5 separate regions of the Homo sapiens genome follow, and all the other regions are reported to be linked to region 1. The links are microRNA targets in miRTarBase. Many come from high-throughput screens and were not tested one by one. Region 1 holds a microRNA gene; each other region holds the end of a gene's coding sequence.
The links. The annotated mature microRNA hsa-miR-661 reads UGCCUGGGUCUCUGGCCUGCGCGU and lies in region 1 at 3,343-3,366, shown strand. An mRNA with a match to its seed (bases 2 to 7 or 8) in the 3' UTR can be bound and repressed. Matches are read on the target gene's strand: a 7mer-m8 pairs with bases 2 to 8, a 7mer-A1 pairs with bases 2 to 7 and ends in A, and an 8mer does both.

Region 2: the mRNA of ZNF292 is a reported target of hsa-miR-661. Seed matches in the 3' UTR shown: 7mer-A1 at 1,778-1,784 and 7mer-m8 at 1,528-1,534.
Region 3: the mRNA of RHPN2 is a reported target of hsa-miR-661. Seed matches in the 3' UTR shown: 7mer-m8 at 3,889-3,895.
Region 4: miRTarBase lists RTCB as a target of hsa-miR-661. The part of its 3' UTR that is shown has no 7-base or 8-base seed match.
Region 5: miRTarBase lists ALDH1B1 as a target of hsa-miR-661. Seed matches in the 3' UTR shown: 7mer-m8 at 4,437-4,443.

The regions. Positions count from the first base shown.
Region 1 is chr8:143,942,553-143,948,571 of GRCh38, reverse strand. It overlaps MIR661 (microRNA 661), which reads left to right and starts at 3,293; the gene lies at 3,293-3,381. It overlaps LOC124902040 (a long non-coding RNA gene), which reads right to left and starts at 4,708. Exons shown (of 2, transcript XR_007061144.1): 1 at 4,402-4,708; 2 at 785-3,006. It also overlaps a transcript of PLEC not described here. RefSeq lists enhancers at 288-1,075, 1,076-1,863, 5,262-5,511 and silencers at 4,392-4,661, 5,732-6,019.
Region 2 is chr6:87,260,668-87,266,686 of GRCh38, reverse strand. It overlaps ZNF292 (zinc finger protein 292), which reads right to left. Exons shown (of 8, transcript NM_015021.3): 8 at 744-6,019. The coding sequence ends at 4,886. Among named protein-coding and RNA genes, the nearest start is that of SMIM8, 59 kb to the left of the region's middle.
Region 3 is chr19:32,976,996-32,983,014 of GRCh38, reverse strand. It overlaps RHPN2 (rhophilin Rho GTPase binding protein 2), which reads left to right. Exons shown (of 15, transcript NM_033103.5): 15 at 2,759-4,423. The coding sequence ends at 3,019. It overlaps FAAP24 (FA core complex associated protein 24), which reads right to left. Exons shown (of 5, transcript NM_152266.5): 5 at 4,786-6,019. Among named protein-coding and RNA genes, the nearest start is that of FAAP24, 7.8 kb to the right of the region's middle.
Region 4 is chr22:32,382,406-32,388,424 of GRCh38, forward strand. It overlaps RTCB (RNA 2',3'-cyclic phosphate and 5'-OH ligase), which reads right to left. Exons shown (of 12, transcript NM_014306.5): 12 at 5,177-5,694. The coding sequence ends at 5,587. LOC339666 (a long non-coding RNA gene) reads left to right here. Exons shown (of 3, transcript NR_038918.1): 3 at 851-1,938. It also overlaps the pseudogene RGL4P1. Among named protein-coding and RNA genes, the nearest start is that of RFPL3S, 14 kb to the left of the region's middle.
Region 5 is chr9:38,396,779-38,402,797 of GRCh38, reverse strand. It overlaps ALDH1B1 (aldehyde dehydrogenase 1 family member B1), which reads right to left. Exons shown (of 2, transcript NM_000692.5): 2 at 4,137-6,019. The coding sequence ends at 5,496. Among named protein-coding and RNA genes, the nearest start is that of ALDH1B1, 7.1 kb to the right of the region's middle.

The DNA.
Region 1 (6,019 bases):
GAGTCAGGGCCAGCAGGCTCAAACCCCTCTCTGCCCTGGACCTCACGGGCTGAGCTTGGGATGGGAAGCTAGGGGAAGGAGGCGGCTCGGATGTGGGGTGTGGCAGAGGGCCAGGGCTGGGCCTCAGGCAGTGACAGGGGTCCGGATGGCCCTGCATACAGCCCGGGGCAGTTCTGATGATACCTGAGACCAGGCACTTCTTGGAGTTTTTAAGTGACCAAGCAGTGAGCTGCCCTGCCCTTCCCCACTGCACAGCCGCTCCGTGGGTTGGCAGAAGGGCAAGGTCAGAGCTCGTGGGCCAACTGTGCTGGTCCAGGATGGCCCTGTTGGATGGGCTGCCCCTCTCCACCCAGCCCTGGCTAGGGAGCACCAGCTGTACCCCTGCAGTGAGGCCCCTGCCCTCCCTGTGCCCTGGTGGTCTGCTTGTCCCTGGGTGGGGCCCATGGGGGCCTGCCAGCAACACATCTGTGTGGGAAGCCATCCGTCCACCTGCTTGTTTAGCCATGCACAGGCCAGGGCCAGACCCAGATGGAGCCCCTGCCCCAGGGGGCTCCAGATATGTGGGGTGAACTGGGTGAGGAGAGCGTGATGGGAAGGTGGCTTCAGAAGCAATCAGGGAGGGCTCTGAGGAGGTGCCTACCCTGCCAGGAGCAGCCCAGAGAGAGGGACAGAGGGAGGCCGGAAGGCCAGAGGGAGAGGACCCATGGGAAGGCCCTGGGCCTGTGGCAGAGTTTCAGTTGCTTGGTGTGGTGGGAAGCTGTAGGAATGTGTTTTTATATGTGAGTTTCATTTACGTTTCATTTTTATTTTACTTATTGTTTTGAGATGGAGTCCCGCTCTGTTGCCCAGGCTGGAGTGCAATAGCACAGTCTTGGCTCACTGCAACCTCCGCCTCCCGGGTTGAAGCGATTCTCCTGTCTCAGCCTCCTGAGTAGCTGGGATTACAGGCATGAGCCACCATGCCTGGCTAATTTTTGTTTTTTTTTTTTAGTAGAGACGGGGTTTCGCCATGTTGGCCAGGCTGGTCTTGAAGTCCTGACCTCAGGTGATCCGCCTGCCTCAGCCTCCCAAAGTGCTGGGATTATAGCTACCGCCCAGCCCTAATTTACATTGCAAATGGCGATGCTTTGCCTGGCTCAAAATTCTGAAGGAACCGAGGATTGTGTGGAGGAGACGCCAGCTGAGCGCTGTCCATGCACCAGCAACGGGCAGGGGCCAGGTAGCCGCCACCACGGTGAGCGCTGTACACGCACAGCACCTAGAGCTGCTTCCCACAGCAAAGGGCAGGGGTTGGGTAGCCACCATGACTTCCCCTCTACACGGAGGACACGCCTGTGCCTTGACCTCCCCCCTTGACCCTCTGTGGCCCTGCGTCAAGGAGGAAGCCTGGAGGTGGCCTGGCTGCCTTGCCCTTCTTCCCAGCCACAGGGTGCTCTAGGTGGAGGGACTATGGCCCGGCCAGCTTTCCACAGGGATCACTGGCTTGGCCGAGTCACCCGTTTGCGGGATTTCTGTAGATCGCCGGCAGGCTTCTAAGGGGTAGTTACGATGGGATTTGATTTGCACTTCACTGGTCAGCAAGCACCTGGGTGGAGAGGTATGGAGAGGGGAGGCAGGTGTCACCATTGCCCCTGGACAGATGCCTGGGGCTGTGCTGGTTGGGGAGGACTCAGGTGGAGGAAGAGACCACCTTTGGGGCTGAGGAATGTGAGTCTCAAGGAGTGGGGTGTGGTGGGCAGTTTGGGGCTCTGCTCCCGCCTGGCTCCTGAAATACCGCTGGGCACATGGATGCCTGGAATGTGGGTGGGAGGGTGGGAGGGCAGGGCTGGGCTGGTGGGGCCTGCAGCGGGAAGGGGAGGCTACAGGGTGGGGTCTGCTGGGCGGGGGGTCTGCTGGGCGGGGCAGGAACAGTAGGGAAGACCCGTGGGCTGGGGCCGGAGGGCTCTCTGGGATTGCAGGCAGGCCAGTCCCCTGCACCCCCAGGCAGGTCTGCTGGGCTGGTCTGACCCGTCAGTCGGCTGGGCTTCATCTCTGCTTACTGACTAAGGGGTGGCTGCGAGGAGGAGCCGCTGCTACCAGGGCATGAGTGGGCCCTCCCTCTGCCTCCCACCCCTTCCCTCCTTCCTGCCTCGCCTTCCTCCCTGCCGGCTCTCGGAGCAGCCTGGCCTGTGTGGCAGCCATGGACAGGTACAGCATGGAGGAGCTGATTCAGCTGGGCCAAGGTAGGGCAGGCAGAGCTGGGGGCTGTGGGAGGCAGAGGAGAGGGCCGGGGCCGCCTCTGGCAGACCTGTCTCTTCCCGTTGTCCACCGTTCTGTGCCGTCAGACCTGGGATGCAGGGATAGGCACAGCCCCCTCTCGGAGCTGCCCCAGGGGTGTGTGTGATGTGTGTCCCGGAAGCACAGGCCTGTCCGGACCTCCGTGGAGTGGTAGAAGAACTGCCCGCTGCCAGCCTGGGGCACTCCTCCCGCCAGGAGCTGGTTCTCACCCAGGCCATTGAGTCAGGCTCCTCTGAGGCTTCCCCAGCACGTGGCAGGGAGTGGGCTGAAACGTCCGGCCTGTCGGCCCCTGCCCACTGCTGGCCAGATGCTGTCCTGGGCTCAGCTGGGAGTTGGGCCCTTTCTGGCATGCCTGGGTATCCCTGACCCTCAGGGCTGCCTGGGCCCGCCCGACCCCTGGCCGCCCAGAGTGGGCCACTGCAGGCATTTCCCTCGGCCGCACGTTTTTGAGGTGTGGGGCTGGAGAGCAGGAGGCTGGGGTGGGCCCGGCCCTCTTGTTGTCCGCGGGCTTCCCAGCATGGACCTGGGTGGCCTGCCCAGTGGCCCGGGGCCAGGCTGGTTCACTGTGCCTTGCTGTGGGCTGAGGTAACTACACTGGAGGCCACCTGGGCTCAGATGGCAGCGTGCGGGACAGCAGGCGGCGCCTCAGGCTCCTGGTCTGTATGAGGCCTTCATGGTATAGGACTTCATGGGGTTTGCTGAGGGTTCCATGTGGTGCCAGGAGCGACGCTGTGGAATGGGGTATACCGTCAACGTGCATTCTCCTGGGCCTGAGGGGTGCGCCCAGCAGACAGGGGTCCCAGGAAGAGGAGCAGGACTGTGCGTGTCCCACGTCCTGTTTCCCCGGCTGCATTGGGATCTGATCTGCATAGGATATGCTGTGGGCCTGCCTGTGGCCCGGCTCTCTGACCCAGGCCTTCCACAGAGCAGGGCTTCGGGACTCCTGGGTGGAGCCAGGCCAGTCTCCTGCCGTGGCCCAGGAGAGGCGTCTCCATCCCAGATCCCTGGGACCCCAGGAGAGGCTGTGCTGTGGGGCAGGCGCAGGCCTGAGCCCTGGTTTCGGGCTGCCTGGGTCTCTGGCCTGCGCGTGACTTTGGGGTGGCTGTCCCGGCCACCGGTGGGGCCAGGTGCTGTGTTGAGTGACCTGCGCAGGGCCCTCTGGGAGAATGGGCGGCCTCTTCTCTTGGCCCCTGTGGCCTTTCCAAGAGCACCCCCTGGCTTGGCAGGGCAGGTGGGTGGGGACTGCACCGCCTCCTGCAGGGACGTGAGCCCGCACCTCCCGCGCCCTGCTCTATTATATTAGAACCCCCTGTGGGAGCTGGGGGACCGAGGTGTCGGGTGGCACCGTCCAGCCAGACCTGACTGCAGCGGGGCCTGGGTGCCCTGGCGCCGTGCGTCATGTTCCAAGTCTGGGTGGTGACGGTCCTTGCGCGCCCTCCTCGGATATTTATATCCCCTGGGCCCCTGCCCACTGCTCCCCTCCCCCACAAGCTGCTGCTGACAGCAGCACGGCCGTGCCCTCCTCCCACCCGACGCTGCCGCCAGTGGCTTGTGCCTCCTCCGAGGGGCCTGTGACCTCCCACACCCCTGGCCCGCTCCGTCTGCCCCGTGGGCTCCTGCCACCGTCCCCGATGAAGATCGTGCCCGGTAGGTGGGCAGCCCTTGAAAGCCTTGTGAAATCCTGGCCCCTTGCTGGGGACAGGGGCCAGAGGGCTGGGGCTGAGGCTGGAGGCCAGGGGCGCTGTCCCTCGCCCTGCACACAGCCTGCCTCATGTGCCCTCACCCAGACCCCCTCAGCCCTGGTCTGCAGTCTCACTTTTGGGGTGTTGGGGCTGGTGAGGAGGGCGAAGTTGAAGGAGTGCAGTGGGTTCAGCTGCAGGCTTGAGGTGGGGGCTCTGGCATCCCTCCATGCCTGCCAGCTGTCCCCAGAGGGCAGCCTTGGAGGCAGAGTGGGCTGCTCGGGCCCCTCTTCTGGTGGGGACAGCAGGGGGAGGCTGGGAGGGAGGGAGGGTGTGTGCCGAGGCCGCGGGCAGTGCTGGGGGGCTGCGGCTTGGCCAGGCGTGCGGCTGGCCCCTCCTCCCGGCGGGTGTGGCCGCGGGGACGCAGGGGTTAAGGCCAACTAACCTTGAGCGTCAGTAGCCCTGCGCAGGGACAGCTGAGCCGGCCGGGTGGGGAGCGAGGGTGGGGAGGCGCCGAGGGCCGGACCCGCGGAGGGAGGAGGAGAGGAGGCGGGCGGGAGCTGTTGTGGGGCTGCCGCCGCGTATGGGGCGGTCCTGCGGGCAGGGCAGGCTCCGGTCCCGGCGCTCCCCCTCGCTCGCCCTGCACGCAGGGAGGGGGCTGTCTAGCCTGGAGCAGCCGGTTCCCAGCGCAGGAAGGGCAGCCCTGGCGGCTCCGCGTGGCGGCTATGGAGCCCTCGGGCAGCCTGTTTCCCTCCCTGGTGGTTGTGGGTCACGTTGTCACCCTGGCCGCTGTGTGGCACTGGCGCAGGGGACGTCGGTGGGCGCAGGACGAGCAAGGTAAGCCCCGCTGGTGGCTGCCAGGGACTCGAGGCGGGGCAGAGGGGCCGCCTGCCTCCCGCCCCTTCATTCCCTGCGCCCTCCCCTTCCTGTTTCCAAGCTGAATGTCAGTGAAAGCAGTGTTGCCCCTCCACCCCACCCTGCAGTGTAGACCCTGACCCTGCTGCAGTCCCAGGGCGGGGCGGGCTCTGCAGTGGCCCTCAGCCTGCAGCCTGTGCGGGACAGGTGGGTGGAAGCGGAGGCCGGCAGGGCAGGAGCGTCCCCCACACGAAGGGAGGCCTGTGGCAGCCGCCGTGGCAGGGACAAGTGGGCAGGTGCCTGTCCGGCCAGCACTGAGGTGGAGGTGGCTCCCTGCACACACAGCAGGGGGTGGAGCCACACGCAGGTGAGGCAGGTGCCCTCATGCCCTCGGGCCGCACAGGGGGCGGGGGCAGCCAGGCTGTGCCCTGCCCTCCCTGCTCAAAGTCACCAGCTCCTGGGCTGTGGTCCCAGGTGGCAACCGTGCCCAGCACAGGATGGGGCGGGGCCCTGGGGATTGGGCAGCCTCAATTATGGGCTTCTGGCCAGAGGGACTGCCTATCGGGGACCTGGCTGGCCAGACCTCTCCTGCAGTGAGGGCGCTGCCTGGCTCAGCTCCTCTGCTGGATCCCCGGACTTGAGATGAGTCAAGATGGGGCTTCTAGGCGTGGCGCTGGGGACGCCCGGAGCTGCCGGGGACTCAGCTGCCAGGATGGGACTTGGGCTGAGGGCTTCTTCCCCATCCATGTTTTTGGCTGGGGACCAGACACTGTCCCTGCCTCCCCACCTCAGCCCACAATTGCCCCCTTCGGCCACGGTCCTGGCTCACAGGATGCCTCTACTCCCTGGTGGTGCCAGACGCGGCTCAGCTCCTCGGTTCTGCCTCCAGCGTTGTCTGCCCACCACCTGGCCCCATGCCCTGCCTTCCTCCCTGGGCCCTGCAGTCCCCACCGCACATCCTGCTGGGAGGCCCCCTCCCATGCCGCTTCAGTCCCAGGGCAGCCTCCCAGCCCGGCCCGTGGGTTGGGGCGCGGCTTCCTGGCTGCGCTGGGCGGGGCTGCGCGCCAGGGGCAGGTTCTTTGGGTCTGGGCCTCGCTCCCGCAGTGGGCGGATTGTGGGGGGGAGGTGGAAGAGGTGGAGAGCGAAGCCGGCAGCCTCGCAGCGTGGGCTGGAAGCAGAGGCGCCGCCGCGGTCCAGCTCCCCGCACT
Region 2 (6,019 bases), not on the chromosome of region 1:
TCATGAAACGAGGGATGTATGTCATTTAAGCTTGAGAAAGCAAGTTACCAGAAAACTATAGAAAAACTGCCAGGTAGTGTTGAGTCTACTTAAGTTTTGGGATTACCAACCTATCTCCTGGAATAATTTTCTTCCATTCCACTGCTGAAGAGTAGACAGACGGTTTGAGGATTTTTCAGGATCATGACAGAGGGAGAGGTGTATGGTCTGAGGATATTTGCAAAGGAGTGCGTTTAACAATGGGATCTAGCTAGTTTCTAGGCTGAACAAGCTGAGGACAGGAGTAAGCTGATGAATAGTCAGCAAGTGGTAGTAATAAGGTAGAAGTATTCTTTTAGCAGAGATATCTTGAGCAGGTGAGCTACAAGTTTGTGGCCAGAAAAATAAATTGAATTCAAGATTTGGAAGTGATATGGGGTTTGATTGTGGCAAAGTCATTGAAGAACACAGGTATTATTATCATTTTCTTCATTGACTGGTAGTGTTGGAAGATATAGATTAAAGTAAGTATTTTTTAAAAAACTGTTGTAAAGAATGGGCATGTGAAACTTTATGATCTGGGTGTCTTTCCGATGAGGTGACATTTAAGCTGTGAACTGACGGGATATGGAGTCACCCATAGAAATAAGAGAAATAAGCATTCCAGATAGGCTTTGAAGTGGGGAAGGAAGGTTACTATGCGTTCAATGAAATGAGAAGAGTGGGAAATGGGAAGTAGGATAAGAATGTTTAAAGGCAGGGGCTTCTGGCAAGTATGACTGGATTTTAATCAACGTTTAATCACAATTACTTGAAATTCAATGAGCATTACTTGAATACCGGGTAATATTCAAAACATTAACAACCAATACAGCAAAGGAATCAACCCATTGGGATATATAAATTGATCAATCAGAATAATCACCATTTGCAAACAGCTGATACAATTGAATTGGTGTACACGTTGATTATCAGTCCTGGTTGAATAAATGCCATTTGAGATCAGCATTTCCCAAAGTGTGTTCTTTAGAATGCTAGTTCAGTGGGATATAACTAAGTATTAACATTAAAAGAAGAAAAATGTTCTCAGGGTCAATTAAGTCTGGAAAATTCCCTTTCAACTTTTTACATATTTACAGTAGAACTTTTGTCTTTAATATGCAAACATGCATTAAATTATTTAAGAGAGGCTGGGTGTGGTGGCTCATGCTTGTAATACCTGCACTTTGGGAGGTGGAGGTGGGTGATCACCTGAGGTCAGGAGTTCAAGACCAGCCTGGCCAACATGGTGAAACCGTCTCTACTAAAAATATAAAATCAGCCAGGTGTGGTGGTGTGCACCTACTTGGGTGGCTGAGGTAGGAGAATCACTTGAACCTGGGAGATGGAAGTTGCACTGAGCTGAGATTGTGCCAAAACTACAAAATTAGCTGGGTGTGATAGCATGCATCTGTAGTCCCAGCTACTGGGGAGGCTGAGGCAGGAGAATCACTTGAACTTGGGAGGCAGAAGTTGCAGTAAGCCGAGATCGTGCAACACTGCACTCCAGCCTGGGCAACAGAGCGAGACTCTGTCTCCAAAAAAAACAAAGAAAAAAAAAGAGAGAGAGAGAGAGAGAACTACAGCACACAATTTAGAAAACTTATTTCATCACAGCAATAACCTTCCACCTGCCTAGTATCTCACTACAATAAACATGCTGAAACAGGCTGCCTTAGACATTACTTTTTATTATCTCTCTTATCCATTAGTCTCTTCCCCAACTTCGTTAGCCTTTCTTCTGGCTCCCATCATTTTTTGCCTGGACTATTTTAGGTCCCCCTAATTAATCTCCAACTTACTCAATTTATCCACTATACCATGACAATTATCTTTCTAAAACTGATACTGATTAAATTGTTCAATATACATGCATCCAATAACAATTTTCAAAAACCAAAATAAAGACTTAATACAGCATACAAGAACACTCCTGATCCCACCACCCATCTGCTTCTTCAGCTTCACCTTCTTCAACTTCCTATCTTTCCAAGTGGCCCACTGGCAATACCGCAATTACGCTCTACCCCCAAGTCTGGAATTCCCTTGTCCCCCTGAACCAATGAGCATTCATTCATCTTTCAAAACTCATATTTTCTACAAAGACTTTCCCAACTACCTACCTCCTTTTCCAGAAAAATAGGGCATTCTTTCTGATGTCCCTAGGTATAGTATTATTGTACTTTCATATTATCTACAGCAACTGTGACTGCTCACTTGATAAAAATTTGCCTTAAAAATATGTCTAGCCCTTTAAAATAATAATGTACCTATGTTAAATTTAACACCGTTGAAAATTTCAAAAACTGTTACATTTCACTTAAGGTGATGTATTTTGAATAATACAATTCTGACCTGTAATATGCAAACTTTGCGGGTTCAGAAGAGGAAAAACTCCTACTTTTTAGTGATGAAACTTTAGCAAATTTAGGCTGTAGAAGATATCTCAAGACAATAGGCTGGGGAAAAGTATACCATGAAAAAAATATATTTTATGATTTTTTAATACTTAGACATTACATTCCGTATCAAAATTTACCAACATGCTATTCTATAAATTCATGTCTTTTTACCATAGTTTGATTTTTTTTGTTTCATGCTAAAAAGCCCACTCTCATAATTACCTTTAGTATACATTACCTGGAATATAAAAATTTCATTAAATGTTGGCAAACTCTTCCCCATGACATGTAAAACAATTAGAAATGTCTAGTTATAAATTTTCTTAAGCTAATGAGCAAAAGAAAAGCCCCAATACATTGGCATTTTCACTTAACAGTGGCTCATAGTTACAATGATCAGAAATAAACCTACTTGCTACTGTGCTATATAGGGCAGTTTTGCCAAGTGCCCACCTTTAAGAGCTAGGTCAATTTCTAAGAAAACTGTATGGAAACATTCAGTTGTTAACAAAAATTTAATATTAAAATTACTCAGTTATTTAAATTATTGTTAATTTAGGAAAAAGAAAACCCATGTATTAATCACCCATAAAATAACTTTTATTTTAATAAATAACAGTGGGCTCACCAAAGGGCAGGGATTTTAACGTGTCAGGTTTTATGCTTATTGGTAGTAAGTCTTAAACAGGTGAAATGAACTATTCAATAAAACCCAAAAGGCCCTAAAAATAAAATACTTTAATAATAAAAATTAAAAAGAAATTTCCAAAAGAAAATAGTTCACTCCTTGACCATGCTTATTTATTCAGAGTACCAGCGATTTCAGTAAGTGCTTCATTTTTCCTGCAAATCTGATGTTGCACAGGGAATGTACACATTTTCATACCATCACAATATCATCAATATCTCAGGCCAATAATATTGTGAATGCAACTGTTTTATAACAAACACAAAATAAAAAAAAACAATGTTACTATTTACGGCAAACAGAAACAAAAGTAAATATTGCAAAGATGTTTTCTTATGTTTCTACTACTGATTTTAGTTGGACTTTAAATGAAGGTCATCAACTCTCCTGGAATAACCTCTACCTCTCGCTGTGAATCCACAGTATAAATATGGTGAATAAAGCTAAACTGTAAGAGCTAACTATATACTGAATAACCAAAATAATTATAACTAATACTGTTCTTGAAGACCAATCTAATGAAAAAAGTATCATTAGATATGGTGAGAAATACAGACAAATCTGTACAATCTAACATCTATAAACAGTAAAATCAAAACATCCAACTTCCTTATAGAAAGTGTTTTATCTATGTAATTATAAATGTTAAGGACTCTTGTATTTTATAAACACAAGATGGGCTCACTTTGATGATATCAATTTTAAGATTTATAAAAATGTTTAAAAAAATCTTTCCACAAAACTTTATACAGTTTAAAGCTATACACCAATCTATAAATCTCAGAAAATGGAAAACAAAACAAAACAAAAAATCTTTATAAGATCACATGTATAAAACAAGAAATGAAATGTGATTTTATTTAAGGCAATACTGGGCTACTTCACAAATCACCACCTCAAATATTTACACTGCTCCACACTACTAGTTTTCTATCACATTCACAAAGGATTTTTTTTTAATACCAAATGTTTAAAATCTTCAATGTAGTAAATTCTTTATTCACATTTCCATTGTATTTCATGGACTCATAGTAACTATATCCAATTAGAAGCAATGAAAAAAAAAAACTGTAGCTATAGGAAACTGCTAGAGAATCTGCTTTAATTTCACATGAATACCACCCCAAAATCCTGGATGGCAAATTTACAAAGCAGAGCAAAGTGTTGATATAATGTGCCTATTTTGTGAAAAGTAATCTTGATATCATCTTGTAAATAAATGTTTCATGTAAAAATCAATGAACTATGGCAGAGTTTCTGGTTTTAGTTCAAAAAGTTCTTAATTTAAAACAATAAAAGAACAATTTAAAAAACTTGATCGCTTAGTTAAAAATTAAAATTCCAAATATAAATGTGTCATTTAATAGTTTAGACTTACAGACTGCTGGTGGCAGCACATGATTTACAATAATAAATATATACAAAAAAGGTATCTACAAATAAAGAGTACTGTTATACATGAGCAGTGACCTGGTGAAACATACCAATCACACAGATAATTGTTTAGTTCATGAAAAGGGCAACTGGGTGATAGAAATTTGAGGTTTAGCTCACTATTTACAATAACTGAAGTACTGATTCTGTTCCTCAAGTCCCATAGGGATAAAAAAAAGTTTTACATGACAAATGTCATGTTTTTTTTTTCTTTTTTGTTTTTGGCCAGGTTAATTCATGTCAACAACAAAAAAATATAATGAAAGTTTCACAATTCTAGCATGCTTGATGGCTTCCTATTTAAAATAAAATGGTAAATGATGTATTTATACTACATTAATTATCAGTACTGACCTCTGCCTGTGGCTTTACCTATACTGATATCTTTCATAACAGACATATCTGGATCATTTGAATGTACTTCAAGTTTTTTCAGACTGACGGTAGGTTTCATTTCCTGAAGTTGCTTTAAGACAAGCTCAGTGCAATCTTTAAGATTCTTGTCTAAAACAATTTTTACATTATCACTGCACTGAAGCTGTGATGGATTGGCAAACTGTACAAACGTTTCGCTTTCTTTACAAGGACATACATGATTTCCACTAGTCACAGCAGTCTTATCAATATTTTTTCTTGAATTTGAATGGGATCCTTTTTTGTTTCCAGTATTCGGATGGTCTTTGTCAGTATTTTTCTTCTGCTTCACTGCAGACTCCTCAAGAAACTTCAGAAATGATACTTCAAATCCCATTGGCTTAAAAGAGCTCCAGTCAAAAGATGCAGGATGCTCCTCAATGGTTTGAATGGCAACAGCAGTTTCTTCTTCTTTACGCACGCTACTTAACTCAGCTGCTGATGCTGGTTCAGCTTTTTCAACTTTCCTTTTTTTATTTTGTGAGACATTTTTTTCCTTATTAACTCTCTTCAAATTACTTGCTTTTTGTCTTTCTGACTGGCAGAGGTTATCTTCCTGAAAATCATTACTTACATTTGAAGAAGTATTAGCTTGGGTCTCTACACTTGTGCTATCTTCATTTATTAATTTTGTAATAAACAATTCTGTTAGTTCATCCATTTCATCTTTTTCATTTTTTTCAACTTCCTTTTGTGAAACTGTAGCTGTTGTTCTTGAATTATCATTGCTCTCTGATACACACGTGTCAGAATCTTTCACATCATTCTTAGCACCTTCTTGCTCAGACGTTTCCTTTACTTGTGAGTTGCAACACCGTTTGAATACAATAAGAAGATTTCGGTGTTGTGATGTAAATGCCTTAGATAATTTATGGCACTTATAATGTCTAATTATATTGCTTTCACTTGTAACAACTGAAGTACATCCCTTTATCATACATGGATACTGGGTTACAAATCTGCTTGTACACTCAGACAGGGCATCATTTCTAGCCTTTATAGAATATACATGCTTCCCACGTTTCAGAGAATAAGGCTTATTTTCTTCAATCTGCACAATCTT
Region 3 (6,019 bases), not on the chromosome of region 1:
GGGATCCAGGCACACAGAAGGGCTTGGTCTTGGGGGACGGATGCCATGAAGTATACGGCAGGGATGTCAGGAGGGTGCGTGAGTGGCTTCAGGAGGAGAGCGAAGATAAGAAACAAGTATACAGGAGAAAAGGAAATGAAATTACTAGGGACACACAGAAGTGCCAGGAAATGGGTGCCTATTAGAGGTTTGGGGTCAGGTTAGAATTCCAAGGGAAGCCTTGGTGAGTGTCCTCCAGCAACGCACAACCTTTCAGATACAGGCCCTAGGGGAGGCAGAGGGTGGAGATGAGCGAGTGGGGGCAGATGGAAGAGAACTGAGGGTATTTATAAGGCAGTGGTTTTGATACACAATGGACTTTGAGCAGCTGAGGGTTGGGAAATGCTTTCAGGCCTCACATCTGTCTCCAGGATTATTCGTTTTATTATTGTTTTAAATGACATTGTGTGTGCTCCGTAAAACATGGTGGAGTTAGCGGTCAGTTTTCCAGAAAAGGAAGAGGCATCTCCATCCTTAGGGGCTCGAAGTACCCCCTACTTTATTGCTGCATAACTCAGATTCCTCTGAGGGTTTATTTTATTTATTTATTTATTATTTATTTATTTTTTGCAATAGCGTCTCACTCCATCGCCCAGGCTGGAGTGCAGTGGCGTGATCTGGGCTCACTGCAACCTCCGCCTCCTGGGTTCAAGTGATTCTTCTGCCTCAGCTCCTGAGTAGCTGGGATTACAGGTGTGCACCACCACACCTGGCTGATTTTTGTATTTTTAGTAGAGATGGGGTTTCACCATGTTGGCCACGATGGTCTTGAACTCCTGGCCTCAAGTGATCTGCCCAACTCAGCCTCCCAAAATGTTGGGATTACAGGTGTAAGACACTGTGCCCGGCCCCTCTTAGGGTTTATATTAGGAACAATGTCCTCAACTATTGCAGCGATATATTGTATGCCTAATTTTAGTGCCAGAACATAGTAGACCATCAATAAACATGTGGCGAACTAAACAATCTCAATGTTAGGCAAACCTTAGAAGCCGGTGATAGCCCATGTGGAAGTCTTCAGAAAGCAAGCTTCCTTAGATTTCCAGTTTGAATCCTACATGATTCTTGGAAAGTTAATAGTAGAGAGTGTTTAATGGTACAAAGTTTCAGCTGAGGAAGATGAAAAAGTTTTAGAGATGGATGGTGGCAGTGGAGCATAATGATGTGAATGTAATTAATGCCACCGAACTCTACACTTGAAAATGATAAAAATGGCACTCCAGCCTGGGCGACAGAGCGAGACTCCATCTTAAAAAAAAAAAAAAAAAGGAAAAAGAAAAAAAAGAAAAAAAGAAAATCAGGTGTAGAATAGTGTAGTATATTCCTTTTAAGAAAATGAATGGTAATATACTTAGGTACATATAGAAATACTTGTACATCATCTCTAGAAGTATAACATGGAGGGCCTTAGAAGCCCAGGTGACAGGGAGACCTATTGCTCACTGCATACTCTTTTTTTTTTTTTCCCTTCCCTTGCCCTCTTCCATTCCCTTCTCCTCTTCCCTTTCCTTCCCCTCTTCCCTTCCTTTCCCCTCTTCCCTTCCCCCCGCCCCCCCCCTTTTTTTTTATTTTGAGACAGAGGTCTCACTCTGTCGCCCAGGCTGGAGTGCAGTGGCACAATCACAGCTCACTATAGCCTCAACCTCCTGGGCTCAAGCAATCTTCCCCTCTAAGCCTCCCAGGTAGCTGGGACTGTAGTTGTGAGCCACCGCGCCCCACCCTGTACTTTCATATTCGTGACCATGAGTATTATTACTTTCTCAAATAGAAGAAGAACCTTAAAATATGAGTTGTGGCTCCTAAGCTTAAATTGTTACTATTGAGTACATTCCTTAAAAATTATCCTTGTTGGGCCGGGCGTGGTGGCTCACGCTTATAATTCCAGCACTTTGGGAGGCCAAGACGGGCGGATCACGAGGTCAGGAGATCGAGAAGGGGTGAAACCCCGTCTCTACTAAAAATACAAAAAATTAGCCAGGTGTGGTGGCGGGTGTCTGTAGTCCCAGCTACTCAGAGAGGCTGAGGCAGGAGAATGGCGTGAACCCGGGAGGCGGAGCTTACAGTGAGCCGAGATCGTACCACTACACTCCAGCCTGGGCGACAGAGTGAGACTCTGTCTTAAAAAACAAAAACAAAAAACAAACAAAAAATTATCCTTGTTGGACCTGGTGGTGCACACCTAGAGCCCCAGCTACTCAGGAGGCCAAGGCAGGAAGATCGCTTGAGCCCAGGAGTTTAAGACCAGCCTGGGCAACATAGCAAGACCCTGTCTCAAAAAAGAAAAAAAGTTTGTCCTTGTTTTAAGAACCTAATTCTATATAAGCATTGGTCACCTGAGTTTCCGAATTATGTCTGTTCAATTTATTTTTTGGAGACAGAATCCTGCTCTGTCACCCAGGTTGGAGTGCAGTGGTGTGATCTCAGCTCACTGCAACCTCCACCTCCTGGGTTCAAGTGATTCTTGTGCCCAGGCTCCAAGCAGCTGGGACTACAGACATCCACCACCACACCTGGTTAATTTTTGTATTTTAGTAGAGATGGGGTTTCACCATGTTGGCCAGGCTGGTCTTGAACTCCTGACCTCAAGTGATCCGCCTTCCTCGGCCTCCCAAACTGTTGGGATTACAGGTGTGAGCCACCGCGCCTGGCCAAACTTCGTAGTTTTTATCATCTATCTTGATGATGCCTGACGCCCTTTTTCTTACTTTTCTATGTGCAGCATAATAAGAGTGCCACATACTCCGTGGGAATGCAGAAAACGTACTCCATGATCTGCTTAGCCATTGATGATGACGACAAAACTGATAAAACCAAGAAAATCTCCAAGAAGCTTTCCTTCCTGAGTTGGGGCACCAACAAGAACAGACAGAAGTCAGCCAGCACCTTGTGCCTCCCATCGGTCGGGGCTGCACGGCCTCAGGTCAAGAAGAAGCTGCCCTCCCCTTTCAGCCTTCTCAACTCAGACAGTTCTTGGTACTAATGTGAGGAAACAAACATGTTCAGGCCCTGAACATTTCCGGTGCTGACTCGGCCTTAAACGTTTGTGCCATAATGGAAAATATCTATCTATCTGTTCTCAAATCCTGTTTTTCTCATAGTGTAAACTCACATTTGATGTGTTTTTATGAAGGAAAGTAACCAAGAAACCTCTAGGAATTAGTGAAAAAAGAACTTTTTTGAGGTGTGTTACTATACTGCTGTAAGTTATTTATTATATAAAGTATTGTAAATAGAATAGTGTTGAAGATATGAAATATGGCTATTTTTAATGGTGACAATTATGACTTTTAGTCACTATTAAATTGGGGTTACCTATATCAGTACAATTTGTAGTTGTTTCCAGGTTTGGCTAATAATCATTCCTTAACCTAGAATTCAGATGATCCTGGAATTAAGGCAGGTCAGAGGACTGTAATGATAGAATTAAATTAGTGTCACTAAAAACTGTCCCAAAGTGCTGCTTCCTAATAGGAATTCATTAACCTAAAACAAGATGTTACTATTATATCGATAGACTATGAATGCTATTTCTAGAAAAAGTCTAGTGCCAAATTTGTCTTATTAAATAAAAACAATGTAGGAGCAGCTTTTCTTCTAGTTTGATGTCATTTAAGAATTACTAACACAGTGGCAGTGTTAGATGAAGATGCTGTCTACAAGGTAGATAATATACTGTTTGATACTCAAAACATTTTTCATTTTGTTTAAAGTAGAAGTTACATAATTCTATATTTTAAGTCTTGGGTAAAAAAGTAGTTTTACATTTTATAAAGTAAAGATGTAAATGATTCAGGTTTAAAGCTCTATTTGACTTCCTTTTTTTGTTTGAGATAGCGTCTTGCTGTGTTGCCCAGGCTGGAGTGCAGTGGTGTGATCTCAGCTCAGTGCAACCTCCGCCCCCTGGGATCAAGCGATTCTCCTACCTCAGCCTCCCAAATAGCTGGGACTACAAGGTGCCCTCCAGCATGCCTGGCTGATTTTTGTATTTTTAGTTGAGGTGAGGTTTCACCATGTTGGCCAGGCGGGTTTCGAAATCCTGACCTCAAATGATCCACCCACCTCAGCCTCCCAAAGTGCTGGGATTACAGGCATGAGCCACCACAACCGTCCCACTATTTTACTTTTTAAAATGACATTCCTACTGATTGATTTTTATCTTGCTATAAGTTCGATGACACCGTGAATCTAATAAGGTTCACTGTTGACACAGTACAAGTTACATAGCTAAAATACATAGCATTGAAGACTAATTTTAAGGATTGACAAGAGTTTATTTTCTATTGTGCAATATCTTAAAGGAAGCAACCACCTTTGGGAAAGTGTATCTGCTGCTCCTAGGGCCATGCTTGTATACATATTTAAATAAACATATTCATTTACCCGAGTTAATATTTCTTTTTACTTTTATTTCATTTTCATTCCCTCCTCTTTCAAATTGTTTCTCCCCAATGCACACAGTTTCTAATGTTCTGATTTTTTTAGTTACTAACATTTCACAAAGCAGAACTTAAAAAGCTGTCAAGTTATCTTAGTATTTTCTAAGACAGATGGTATCTTTGTGCTTATTTTTTGTTTTTGTCTTTTTTTCAAGACAGGGTCTCGCTTTGTCACCCAGGCAGGAGGACAGTGGCGCAATTGTGGCTCATGGCAGCCTCAACCTTCCGGGCTCAAGCAATCCTCCCACCTCACCCTCCTGAGTAGCTGGGACTACAGGCATGAGCCACCATGCCTGGCTAATTTTTTTGATTTTTTTGTAGAGATGGGGTCTTGCCATGTTGCCCAGGCTGATCTCGAAATCCTGGACTCAAGCAATCCTCCCACCTCAGCCTCCCAAAGTGCTGGGACTACAGGTGTGAGCCACTGTGCCTGGCCTGTGTCTATTTTTTGAATGGGCAATTTGTACCTTTTGATCCCCAGCCCCTGCTTCCCTCACTAGATGCAGCTGCTGCCATCATTTTCTTGTATCCTTCCATTGTTGGGCCTTTCATATACAAACACAGCCTGTTCTGCCTCATGCATGTTGAGTTTTCAACTTTAAATTTTTTTTTTTTTTTTTTGAGATGGAGTCTCACTCTGTCATCCAGGCTGGAGTGCAGTGGTGCAATCTCGGCCCATTGCAACCTCCACCTCCTGGGTTCAAGCGATTCTCGTGCCTCAGTCTCCTGAGTAGTTGGGATTACAGGTGTGTGCCACCACACCCAGCTAATTTTTGTATTTTTAGTAGAGACAGGGCTTCACCATGTCGGCCAGGATGGTCTGGATCTCCTGACCTTGTGATTCACCCCCCTTGGCCTCCCAAAGTGCTGGGATTACAGGTGTGAGCCACTATGCCCGGCCGTTGAGTTTTCAACTTTAAGTGGGAACTTCAGACTTCATACTTTCTGTGTGCAGAAGACATATGCAGTGATTATAAACAAACTGTACATCTGCCAAAAAAAAAGGCCGGGGGGAGGGAGGAACAAAGGAAAGGAGGAAGGAACTGTTGCGCAGTTATTTATTTACATTGGAAACAGCCCTCGCAGTACGGGTATATGAAGGCCAGACCTGATGAACAGCAGGTGAAACTCTGGGAACCCAGGGCTTAGGATACACAGTGCTTCCTTGTACATTTGTTTCCTTCAGATGGTCACATCCACCACTGAAGCTTTTTAGAAGGCACTTTCCATGACAGATGCAGGTCAAGGTCGCACATTAAAATCGGCCCTAATGCTTTTTGCTGAGTGTGAGTCCCTGACTCTCTTGCGAAGATCCCACCAGCCCTTTTCGTCTTAGCAGAATGAAGGCAGTGCCCTCTGCGGCCCACTAACTTCACAAGCTGAACTCAGACGCTAAGGCAGGACGACCCACGGGCTCCATTCAAGCCTCGCCTCATCTTTCACTGGTTGCTGCTGGAGAAAATCCTTTTTCTTTTTTTTTTTTTTTTGTTGTTTTCTTTGAGACGGAGTCTCGCTCTGGTGCCCAGGCTGGAGTGCAGTGGCAC
Region 4 (6,019 bases), not on the chromosome of region 1:
AAACCTATCTGTCCATCCTCAGGTGAAGGGATAAAGAAAATGCCGTGTGTGTGTGTGTGTGTGTGTGTGTGTGTGTGTATGTATATATATATATATGTATATATATATGTGTGTATATATATATATATGTATATATGTATATATATATATAATGAAATACTCTTCAGCCATAACACTCCAGGAAATCCTATCACCTCTGCAGCCAGGTGGAGAAAGCTGGAAGACATTAGGTAAACTATGAAATGACCCTGGTTGGAGAGAGATCTACACTGCATGATCTCAGGCATGCAGGATCCAAAAAATTTATCTCCTAGAAGCAGAAAGTTCAATAGCGGTTACCAGAGGCTGGGAAGAGGAGGAGGCCTAGGCAAGGAATGGTGAGCCGAACGCTCCCCACTCCAAATGTATTTACTTGTTTAGAGACAGAGTCTTGCTTTGACATCCAGACTGGAATGCAGCGGTGCCATCATGGCTCACTGCAGCACCCACCTCCCAGGCTCAAGTGGTTCTTCTGTCCTAGCCTCCCAACTGGGACCACAGAAATATGCGAACATTTTCAGCTAATATATATTTTTTTAATTTGTAGGGACAGGGGCTCCCTATTTTGCCCATGTTGCTCTCAAACTCCTGGGCTCAGGCAATCCTCTCACCTTGACCTCCCAAAGTGCTGAGATTCTAGGCTTTAGCCACCATGCCTGATCGTATGTTTACATGTTGAAATTCTAACCCTCAATCTCATGGTATCAGGAGGTGGGAGGTAATGAGGTCCTGAGGGTGGAGCCCGCATGAATGGGATTGCTGGCTTATTAAAAGGAACCCCAGAGAGCTCTCTTCTCCCTCTCTCTGCCAGGCGAAGACACAACCTGAAGTCTGCAGTCTGCCACACAGAAGACAGTCCTCACCAGGGCCCAACCAGGCTGGCACCCTGATATCCGACTTCCAGCCTCCAGAACTGGGAGAAATACAATTCTGTCTGCCCTGGGGATGAGCTCCCCAGGCTATGGCTCTTTGCTCTAACAGCCTGAACTAGCATAGAAGTGCTATCCCATCATCTGGGTTGTATTCTATTCAGAAAGGCGTCACTAACCCCTCAGTGCTGTGATCCTTGCGGACGCTGCCCACCATAGGCTGAGATGAGGCACAGGGTCTGGTTCTAAATAGAATCAGAAGGCACTGGAAAGTGCAATGTCAGAGGACGATGAGGGCTGAATTTCATATAATCTCAGCCTCTACTGGTGCGCATGGAAAACGAGGCCCAGAGCAAAAATGCCTTTCTCGAGATCACACTGTGGACCCCAAGCCCATTGGAGTTGTATTCCATGCTACCTCTCACCCCTCACTTCTTCTTGAAATTCTTCCATCTCTAAGCGTGTGCAGTATCTACAGGGGACACCAAACAATGAGTTTTATAAGATTTATCTCAAAGACACCTGATGAGTTCACCAGGAAGGAGATGCTAGCAAAACCCCATTGTGCATGTTGCAGGGCTGGGGAGGCCCCAAAACACCAGAAAACTTCTCTAGGGTCACAGAACTGGTAAGATCAAGGAGGTTTGGCCCAGCACTGTCTCCTCAAACCTAGGGCCTTAGTTGCCTCCAGGTCTTCCCAGGGTGACGAGGGGGCACTTTTTTTGCATAATTTGGAACAGGTAAGAAGTTGGTAGGAACAGGTAAGAATAGGGGGTTGGTGAGTGGTCAGAAGCCCAGTGGGGCCTTTGAGTAGGTCTTATGGACGGAAGGAGCATAGGGGATTGGACCTGGAAGAAGTGAGTCTCCTCTCAGATCCTGGGCCTTGTGATGGGCTTTCTCCCACCCTGGAGTCTTCCGGCATTTTCCCCCTGCCAAGGGCTGAAATGGCCTTAGCTGTTTCTCCAGACTCCCTTTGATGTTAAAGGATGAAATCCAATTATATTCCTTTAAGTTAAAGCATTCTTCTAAAGCATCTTGTCCTGTGCACTGTCTCTAAAATGAGGAGGGGACGAGGCCTCCCCAGGCCCTTTCCCTCCATATCAGAAGTGGAGCTTCAGGTGGCCTAGAGGGGATTTCATGTAGCCCTCCCTCTGGAAGGTGCTGAGTTCTTTTTTTTTTTTTTTTTTTTGAGACAGAGTCTCGCTCTGTCATCCAGGCTGGAGTGCAGTGGCGTGACCTCGGCTCACTGCAAGCTCCGCCTCCTGGGTCCACACCATTCTCCTGCCTCAGCCTCCCAAGTAGCTGGGACTACAGGCGCCCGCCACCATGCCTGGCTAATTTTCTGTATTTTTAGTAGACACGGTTTCACCGTGTTAGCCAGGATGGTGTCGATCTCCTGACCTTGTGATCCGCCCACCTCGGCCTCCCAAAGTGCTGGGATTATAGGCGTGAGCCACCACGCCCGGCCAGGAAGGTGCTCAGCTCTGACCCAGGTGCTGCTGCACTGCCATTTGACATCCAAAAGCCCGCGTCTCCTCATCTCTACCATGAGGATGATTTTTGAGGACTCACTGGGATGATGCTCTTGTAGGCTACTAATACAGCAGGTGCCACTGCTTCACAGCTGACAAACACCGTGAGGATGCCTTGAAGGCACTAATGTTTTTCATTATTCTCCACTTTTTTTTTTTTTTGAGTCTTGTTTTTTCACCCAGGCTGGAGTCCAGTGGTGCAATCTTGGCTCACTGCAACCTCCAACTCCCGGGTTCATGTGATTCTTCTGCTTCAGCCTCTCGAGTAGCTGGGACTACAGGCACATGCCGCCAAGCCCAGCTAATTTTTTTTTTTTTTTTAGTAGAGACAGGGTTTCACCATATTGGCCACGCTGGCCTCAAATTCCTGATCTCGTGATCCGCCCGCCTCAGCCTCCCAAAGTGCTGGGATTACAGGCGTGAGCCACCACGCCCTATTCTCCACTCTTATGTCAAATTTTAAAGTCTAGAACCTTTTCCACCATGGGAACCCATGTCCTCCACATCCACAAGTCTCCAAAGGGTTGGGGATTCCTTGTGTGAGCTCCAGATCCCAATCCTCTGGTGGTTCATGGTGTTGTCAATGACAGGTCTCTCCTTGTCACCCCAGTATGAAAATGAGGAGACTTACAGGGTGCGAACATTCCAGATAGGTACAGGGGAGAAACTGGTGAAGGCCCTGGTTCCAGCCTTTCTGGGTAGAACCATCTCCTCCTATGCCACCTGTTTGGGCCCCTCCTGGGACTTTATCACCGTGCCAGACTTCATGGAGGAACTGTTTACCAGGTGAATGTCCATCCCCTCCAACTCACAGTGGTGACTGTCTCCGACTAGCTGTGTCTTGAGGATGTCACCGAAGCCCTCTGAGCCTGTTTGCTCCTTTGTAAAGCAGTGAGATGAACCTCATAGGGTTCTTATGGGAACTAAATGGCCTAAGGCATGGCAAGCAGGTCCCAAGTGCCTGGCTCTGTGAAAAGGCTGCTGAGCATGCTATAGTTCACATTTATTATCTTTCCCTTCAATGGAGCTCTGGGCATGCTGTCTCAATGGCCCATATCCCTGTTTGGAAAAGCACACAGAAAGCAAATCTGTTTTTGCATTTGTAAAGGATGTCTGTGATTCTTTCTAACTGGTCTTTGTCCTTGACAGAGAAAGAACAGTGGTCCCTTGGGTCCTGAAGGAGGGGCCCCAGGCTCACTCAGGTATCTGTAGAGGTTCTGGTTGAGGTTCATTCATTCAACAGATATATATGAAAAATGTAATTTATGCAGTCACTTTTCCAGTGGCTTGGCATAATTTAGTAAAGAAAGCAGATGACAATGCCTGGGCCTCAATTCTACTTGAAGTGTCAGATACTTCCAGTAGAGCGCATAAGCAGGTCATATCCACAGAATGTTAGATGTGACAGCCTCATGGCCTCCTCTAGGTATGGTGGCATCTTCCCAGGTTCTGGGACTAGGATGACATAGCCCAGGAACAAGTATAAACTGGGTGGATTTAGGGTTCTGAAGGGTCTTTTGACTTCCAAACATACGTGGAGGAAATATGTGGACTGTAGCTGGGAAGAGACTGAAAAAACCCTGGGTCTCATCTCTCTTATGATTCCCATGAGAAAGTTGAGATCTAGGGACTTTCCCTACAAAAGGAAAGGAGAGTTGTAGATGGCACCTTAGGTCCCCAGTAAAATATAGGGGAGGCTATGGCCAGGGCCGACCCCCAAGAGAACCATTCCCAGCACAGGGGTTTCCTATCTCTGCCTGTCCTCCATGCCACATCTGCCTCTCCCAACCCAAGCACCAAGTGGCCCAGAGCTGGAGTTTTGATGGGCAACCTGCTCACACATCTGCCTGGAGCTGCAGTTGTGAGTGCCCAGGTGCTCAGCACTGTGTGCCAGGGCCTTTGGGAAGAGAATGTCAGTAGGAAGCCGGGGCCCGCAAGGGTCTGTATAGCCCTGCTGCATGGCCAGGTCTGCCCCTATCAAGACAGCACAGATGGCTGGGGCTGGAGTGGGGCTGTCCTCTACACAGGAAGCAACAAGCCAGGGGCCCAGAACCACAATAAAAAGCCCCGCAAGGGCCAGGCGCGGTGGCTCACGCCTGTAATCCCAGCACTTTGGGAGGCTGAGGCGGGCGAATCACGAGGTCAGGAGATCAAGACCATCCTGGCTAACACGGTGAAACCCCATCTCTACTGAAAATACAAAAAATTAGCTGGGCATGGTAGCGGGCGCCTGTAGTCCCAGCTACTCGGGAGGCTGAGGCAGGAGAATGGCGTGAACCTGGGAGGCGGAGCTTGCAGTGAGCCGAGATTCCGCCACTGTACTTCAGCCTGGGTGACAGAGCGAGACTCAGTCTCAAAAAAAAAAAAAAAAAAAAAAGCCCTGCAAGGCATGTGTAGGAGGGAGGCCAGGCCTCTGGTTCTGCTGTGCCCTCCATCACCAGCACCACCACCTACCTCCATTTTGTTCACCCGGCCCCATGGATACAAAAACTCTGCCGTGTATTTAGAATAAGAAAGGTAGTAAAGCTATGAAGACTTTGTCTTTTGGGCCGCTATTCCTTAAACCTCCCCATACTCCCTCTTCAATGTGTTCCACTATCCATTCATCTAACAGCCTGATTACAACTCCCTGGGTGCTCTCCAAGTAAGAGGGGTATTTAGGGTTTTGCTGAGTGCAGGGGTGATGCCTAAATGGGTGGATGAATGGACAAACTGACAAAGCAACAGACGAAAGGAAACATTCCAAAACCTTATTGAACAGAACTTTCTTCATGACACCTCTCGGAATGTAAACAGAGCTTGGTGTGAAGAAGATCAATCTGATGGCTAAAGATCAGTATGACTGCGTAAGGCAGTTTGACATCTACCCATCCCTAACAGATTTTCCTAAAACTCTGTGGAACAACCAAGGAGAAGGCATATTCCTCCCTTTCCAAAGGTGGGCAATGTGCCTCTTCCTGGAAGGTTATTTTACAAGCACGGGCCCCTGAAAGCAGCAGCCTCCCCATCAGCCATTTTGGCGTGAGCAGTTACAGCTGCACACTTTGCAACTTGTCCCGCCTTGAGTCTGATGTCAGAAGAGCATGTCAGTCCACTTCCACTTCAGAGAGGGTTGGTGGTGTCAGGCAGCCCTGCTGTCCAAGGTTCTATCCTTTGATCACAGCAATTGGTCTCAGTTTAATGGCTTTCTTGCTGATTCCAGCATCATGGCAGGTATTTACCACATCTGTCACATTCTTATAGGACTCAGGAGCCTGCAGGAGAGGAATTTAAACATTGTACAAGTCCACTGAAAACACAGTCTTTACAAGCACCAAACTTCACTTGTGATGAAATAAATGCACACTAAAATAATACAGAGAGTTTTTTTTTGCCTATGAAATTAGCAAAAATTTAAAAAAGAAGTAAGCCTGATGTTGGTCAGTGCTGATTTCCAAAACACTTTCACCTTTTTTTTTTTCTGTATTTTTCAAAATGTCTTTAAAGAACATGTATTACTTGTATAACTAGGAAATGTAGTAAATGTAAGTAAATAAAACACACACCAGAACCTGATTGGAAGAAACGGCACCCAACCAT
Region 5 (6,019 bases), not on the chromosome of region 1:
GAGTAAAGGCCCCCGTCAGTCCATCCACACGGTGACCTCCAAACACCAGCCCTCTGCCCCCCTCAGGCTGTGACTTCTCTGTCCTATTTCCCCACCTGGCTTGCTCCATGCCAGCCACCTGGCCTTCTCCTGTGTTCCTGGAGCCTCCAGGCATGCTCCAGTCTCTTGGTGAGACGACCTCTGAGCACCTTACTGAAAATTACAATGTCTACTCCATCCCACCCACTTCCCTATTCCCTTCCCAGCACTGTTGTTCTCTATAATACCCTTCACCTCCTGACAGACTAACGATTTCACCTGTTTTGCATATGGTCTGCCTCTTCTATCAGAAAGGATGTTCAGGATTTTATTTTTTTTTTAGTTTCCTGCTGTATCCTCTGCCCCTAGAATAGTTCCTAGCACATAGACAACATTCCATAAAATGTGTTAAACAAAGGAATACATAAGTAAGAGTCCCACCGTGTCCCTAAACGTGCAACCTCCAGGGTGGTTGCAGTGGCTGGCACTACCCCCCACGTGGTTACTGCAGCCAGAAACATGAGGTTACCCAACTTTCTCTCCTCTCTTGTGCCAAGTTGTCCATCTGTCATCATGCCCTGAAGCCTGCCTTCTGGCTGTCCAGACTCTGCCCCCACCCCACACCCTGGTGTGCCAGCATCACTTTGGGCGCAAGCAACAATGTCCTGAGAGGTGCTGACTCCAGGTCAACTCCCTCAATCTATCCTCCACATTGAAGCAGAGCCAGCTTCAGAAACCGAATGTGATCCTATCACTTTCCTTTAAAAGCCCTCGGGGGCAGCCAGACATGGTGGCTCACACCTGTAATCTCAGCACTTTGGGTGGCTGAGGCAGGAGGATTGCTTGAGGCCAGGAGTTCAAGACCAGCCTGGGCTACACAGCGAGATGTCCCCCATCTCTACAAAATGTTAAAAAAGTTAACCCAGCATGATGGCACACACCTGTAGTCCCAGTTACTTGGGAGGCTCAGGTGGGAGGATCGCTTGAGCCCAGGAGTTTGAAGCTGTAGTGAGCTATGATCAAGCAACTGTGCTCCAGCCTGTGTGGCAGAGGGAGACCCTGTTTAAAAAACAAAAGCAAAACCAAAAAGCACCCTCCCATTGCTAGACCAAGTGTGAGCTTTCTGAAAGGATGCACGAGCCCCTTCACAGTCCAGCCCCTGCCTGCCCCCTGCCCCCATGCTTTTCCTCCCTGCCTCTTTCCTCCTCATGGAAAAACTTGCCCTTCCTCCAACCCTCCATATTTCTCAGACTCCAGGAGCATCCTTCCCTTATCCCTCTGGTCCCCTGCTAGTCATTTAGCAGGACCCCATGCCCACTCCCACTGGGCCTGTGCCTGAACTGAGCTGGGAGCCCTGGGAGGCAGCGGTGTCTGGCAGAATCAGAGGACCTGAGCTTGAGCCTGTCTCCACTCACTGCTGAACACCTCCCAGGCTTGATGTCTATCAAGTGCAGAAGAATAATACTGAGGGCCCTGATGGCAGTTAGAAAGTGAAACCCTGTCTCTACTAAAACTACAAAAATTAGCCGGACGTGGTGGTGTCTGCTTGTAATCCCAGCTACTCAGGAGGCACCCAGGAGGCAGAGGTTGCAGTGAGCCAAGATTGCGCCACTGCACTCCAGCCTGGTAGACAGAGCGAGACTCCATCACGAAATTAAAAAAAAGAAAGAAGCATGAAGGGAGGTGGCCCACCGTGTGTGCTTGATACAGAGGCTTGCTTTCCGCTCATGATCTCACGGCCTCTGTGCTTCTCACTGCACTGTCCACCCGGCTCTGTAATTGTCTCCCCTGCCCAACTGTGAGCTCCTGCAGGGAAGGGACTGTCTTACTCAATTCTCTTTCCCCCAACAATAGGCCTAGAGCAGGACCATCGCCCCCCACCCAACCCCTTTGTTTTTTCTTAAACCAAAGAGTTACTTGTGTGAATTAATGAATCAGGTGGCCACCAGAGGTCAGCCTCACACCCAGAATGGAGCCAACCCAAATGAAAGTTCCTAAATGGCCCCGGGTCTGAGGAGAACCGGTGGGACTGAGCAGCAGCTCTGATGCATCCAGCACAGTGGCTGGCTTGGGTGTGTAGGGCTTGCTGGGCTTTGCCGTGGGTTCTCCAGGCTTGGAGGGTTGGTTCCATGTGCTTGCCAGTATGCGCCGCTCTCTGGTCCCTCGTGCATGCTCATGGGGAACTGATTCCAGAAGAGTTCCCTATTAAACCTCTCCACTTCCTTTCCCTCACCTGAAAAAAGTGGGGTGGTAACTCCATTACTCCACTACCTGCTTTATAGGATGGTTGTGAGGCTTCCATAGCATGGCAAGGTGCCTGGCATAGTGTTTATGGAGTAAGATCTTGGTGAGAGTTTGCTAAGTGGATGGAAGCCCCAGAATTGCAACATCTCCCAAGTGTGAGTCTGGTGGGCAGTGTCTGGCCTGAATGAGGACACCCAGTTAAACCTCCCTGCTCACAAGTCTGTGCATTCAGCACAGTGGTAAAATGAGTGGAGGGGACTGGGCTTGCTGGCTCACGCCTGTAATCCCAGCACTTTGGGAGGCCAAGGTGGGCAGATCATTTGAACTCAGGACTTCAAGACCAGCCTGGGCTATGAGGCAAAACCCTGTCTCTCCAAAAAATACACAAATCAGCCAGGCATCATGACATATGCCTGTAGTCCCAGCTACTCAGGAGGCTGAGGTGTGAGGATTGCTTGAGCCCAAGAGGTGGAGGCTGCAGTGCGCCATGATCGTGCCACTGCACCCACCCTGGACAACAGAATGAGACCCTATCTCAATGAATGAATGAATGAATGAATAAATAAATAAATAAATAAATTTTTAAAAGAATTTAAAAATGGGTGGAGGAGCCGTGATGGCTGAGTTTATTAACAATCTGACCTACAGGCTCCTCACTCTCAGAATTTCAGGGCTCAAAACAAGGGACCATGAAGATTGTCTTTTCCAATCCCATTCCATACTGGAACACTGTCTACAGAGCTCGTCTTTGGTTAAGGAGTATTGAAACTTAAATAAGGAATGGAGTTGTTAAAATATTGTGATGTTGCACATTAATCATTAGAGACACCCAGCCGCCCATTTCCATGTCCCAGTGCGTTTATGAGAAACTTTCGCTGCTGTGCAACAGAGGTGCCAACAGCCTCCCAGAGAAATCCGTAGAAGGTGCACTATGGGGGAGTGTCAGGGTCACCTTAGCTGTAGACAAATGGTGTAGAAAGGAGGTCCTAGGAAGGGAGGTGAGGGAACCAAACAGACTCTGAACCCTCAAGCAGCAGTTTCCAGCCAAACCCAAGTTATGATAATAAACAAAATCATCATGTTGCCTAGGTAAGACAATAGGATGTTTAAGAGTTGACTGGGGCCAGGCATGGTGGCTCATGCCTGTAATTCCAGCACTTTGGGAGGCCGTGGCAGGAGGGTTGCTTGAGACCAGGAGTTTGAGACAAGCCTGGGAAACATGGTGAAACCTCATCTCTACAAAAAATACCAAAAAAAAAAAAAAAATTAGCCAGGCATGGTGGTGAGTGCCTGTAGTCCCAGCTACTTGGGAGGCTCAGGTGGGAGGATTGCTTGAGCCTGGGAAGCAGAGATGAGTGGGGTGTGCATTTACAGGAATGGGGGGACTTGAACGTAAGGTGGCTTGTAAGCAGCATGGTCTAGAAAGATGGACCGAGAGAGGGAGGCTCAGCATTCTGCTTCTGTATTGTGGCCTGGCTGGCTTGGATTTGCCTTCACTCCCATCAGTTGGGGAATGAATGTAGCAAGACTAACAATAAACATTATGAACTCTGAGGTTTGAAACTCTGGAAATCCCCAGCATGTCAAGGTGGCCCCCATGCTAGGCTTGGCTTGAAGGGTGGGTATGGTTTGGAAGGGGTGGGGGGCTGTGGAAACGAGTCCAACAAGATGGGCCCATTCTGAGCAGGAACCAGAGTTTTTCTCTACGGGTCTTACAGTTGCACTTTGTCACCCATCCAAGAGAAAACAAAAACAGAAACATTGGGGAGGGGACTTTTGCACCTGACTGGGGGTTGACTAGACCACCTGGGTCCCTTCCATCCCCCACACTCTATAAAATGTTCAGCAGCAGGACAATATGGAGACAAAATGGATTTGCTCACAGAATGTATACGTTTATTTTTTAACGGAGTTAATTCATGGCCGGGTGTTGTGGCTCCCACCTGTAATCCCAGCACTTTGGGAGGCTGAGGCGGGTGGATCACCTGAGGTCAGGAGTTCAAGATCAGCCTGGCCAAAATGGTGAAACCTCATCTCTACTAAAAATACAAAAATTAGCCAGGTGTGATGGCATGTACCTATAATCCCAGCTACTCAGGAGGCTGAGACAGGAGAATCGCTTGAATCTGGGAGGCGGAGGTTGCAGTGAGACGAGATCACACCACTGCACTCCAGCCTGGGCGACAGAGTGAGACTCCGTGTCAAAAAAAAAAAAAAAAAAGAAAAAAAGAAAGAAATTAATTCATATACCATAATTAAACAATTCCATAGTTTTTAGTATTTTTACCAAATCATGCAACCATTACTATTGTTCAACTCCAGAACATTTTCAAAACCTCCCAAAAACAAATCCCATGCCCACTAACAATTACTCCTCTATCCCCTGGCAACCACTAATCTATGTTCCATCTCCATGGATTTGCCTAGTATGTATATTTCATATAAATGGAATCATACAGTCTGTAGCCTTGTACATCTCTCTGGCTTGTTTCACTGAGAAGGATGTTTTCAGGGTTCACTGATGTCACAGCATGTGTCAGTACTTCATTCCTTTTTATGGCTGAGTAATCCAAGGAATATTCCATGGAAACATTTTATTAATCCACTCATCAGTTGACGGACATTTGGGATGTTTGGGCTTACTTTACAGGTGTAATCATGTAAGCATATTCTTTGCCTACTCCTTCCCACAAATTAAGGAAAATCAGTAGCAAAATGAAGGGCAAGCAACTAAAACAGCCAGCAACTGGCACACAGACAAGGAAAAGCACCTCTGGTTTTTAGGTTAAGCCAATGAAGAGTGGGGCCGAGATTTAGTATCCACCTAGTTCAAAACCCCTAACACTTTCCAAGCTTGTGTTCTGAGTTGAGTCGATCCACTAAACCATCAAGCGCACCCATGGGAAAGTCCTTGGATCAGCAGGAAGAGCTACAAATTACAGATCACTGGTTTTTAATCTGTCCTCCAGAGACTCCTAAGATTTCATGGAAGCAACTCATGGGCCACCAAGGGGGCTGTGGTTGGGGGTTAGATAGGTAGAACTCTGAGCCTGGTCCCCATCTCTGATTTAAATAGAACAGCCTTGATTGAATTGCTTTATTTGTGGGGTTTCTTCTAAGAGTTAATTTGGAACAAAGAAAGGGTGTTCTTGGCTTTAAAACAGCTTGGCAAGCATTCGTCAAGGTGGTTGTGGAATTGCTGGACTGTGACTGGGCCTCCCTGACAGCTGCTCTTACGAGTTCTTCTGAGGAACCTTGATGGTGACCGTCTTTACCTCTGTGTAGGCCTTAAGCCCATCCTCACCCAGCTCCCTCCCGTTTCCAGATTCCTTAAACCCTCCAAATGGCGTGTGGCAGGTGACGATGTTGTAGGTGTTTACCCACACGGTCCCGGCCTGGAGTGCCTGGGTGAAGTACATGGCCTTGTCCAGATCCCGGGTGAACACAGCCGCAGCCAGGCCATACCTGGTGTTGTTGGCCCTCTCAACCACCTCCTCAATCTTCTTGAACTTGAACAGGGGCTGCACAGGCCCAAAGATCTCCTCTTTGGCAATTCTCATGTCATCCTGCACGCCACCAAAGACAGTAGGCTTGATGAAGAAACCACGCTCCCCGAAACGCTCTCCGCCACAGAGGAGTTTTGCGCCCTCCTTCTGGCCAAGCTGGATGTAGCCTAGGACTCGTTCAAACTGCTCCTTGTCCACCTGAGGCCCCTGCTGGGTGTCCAGCTCAAAGGGGTTCCCCACTTTCCTCTGCT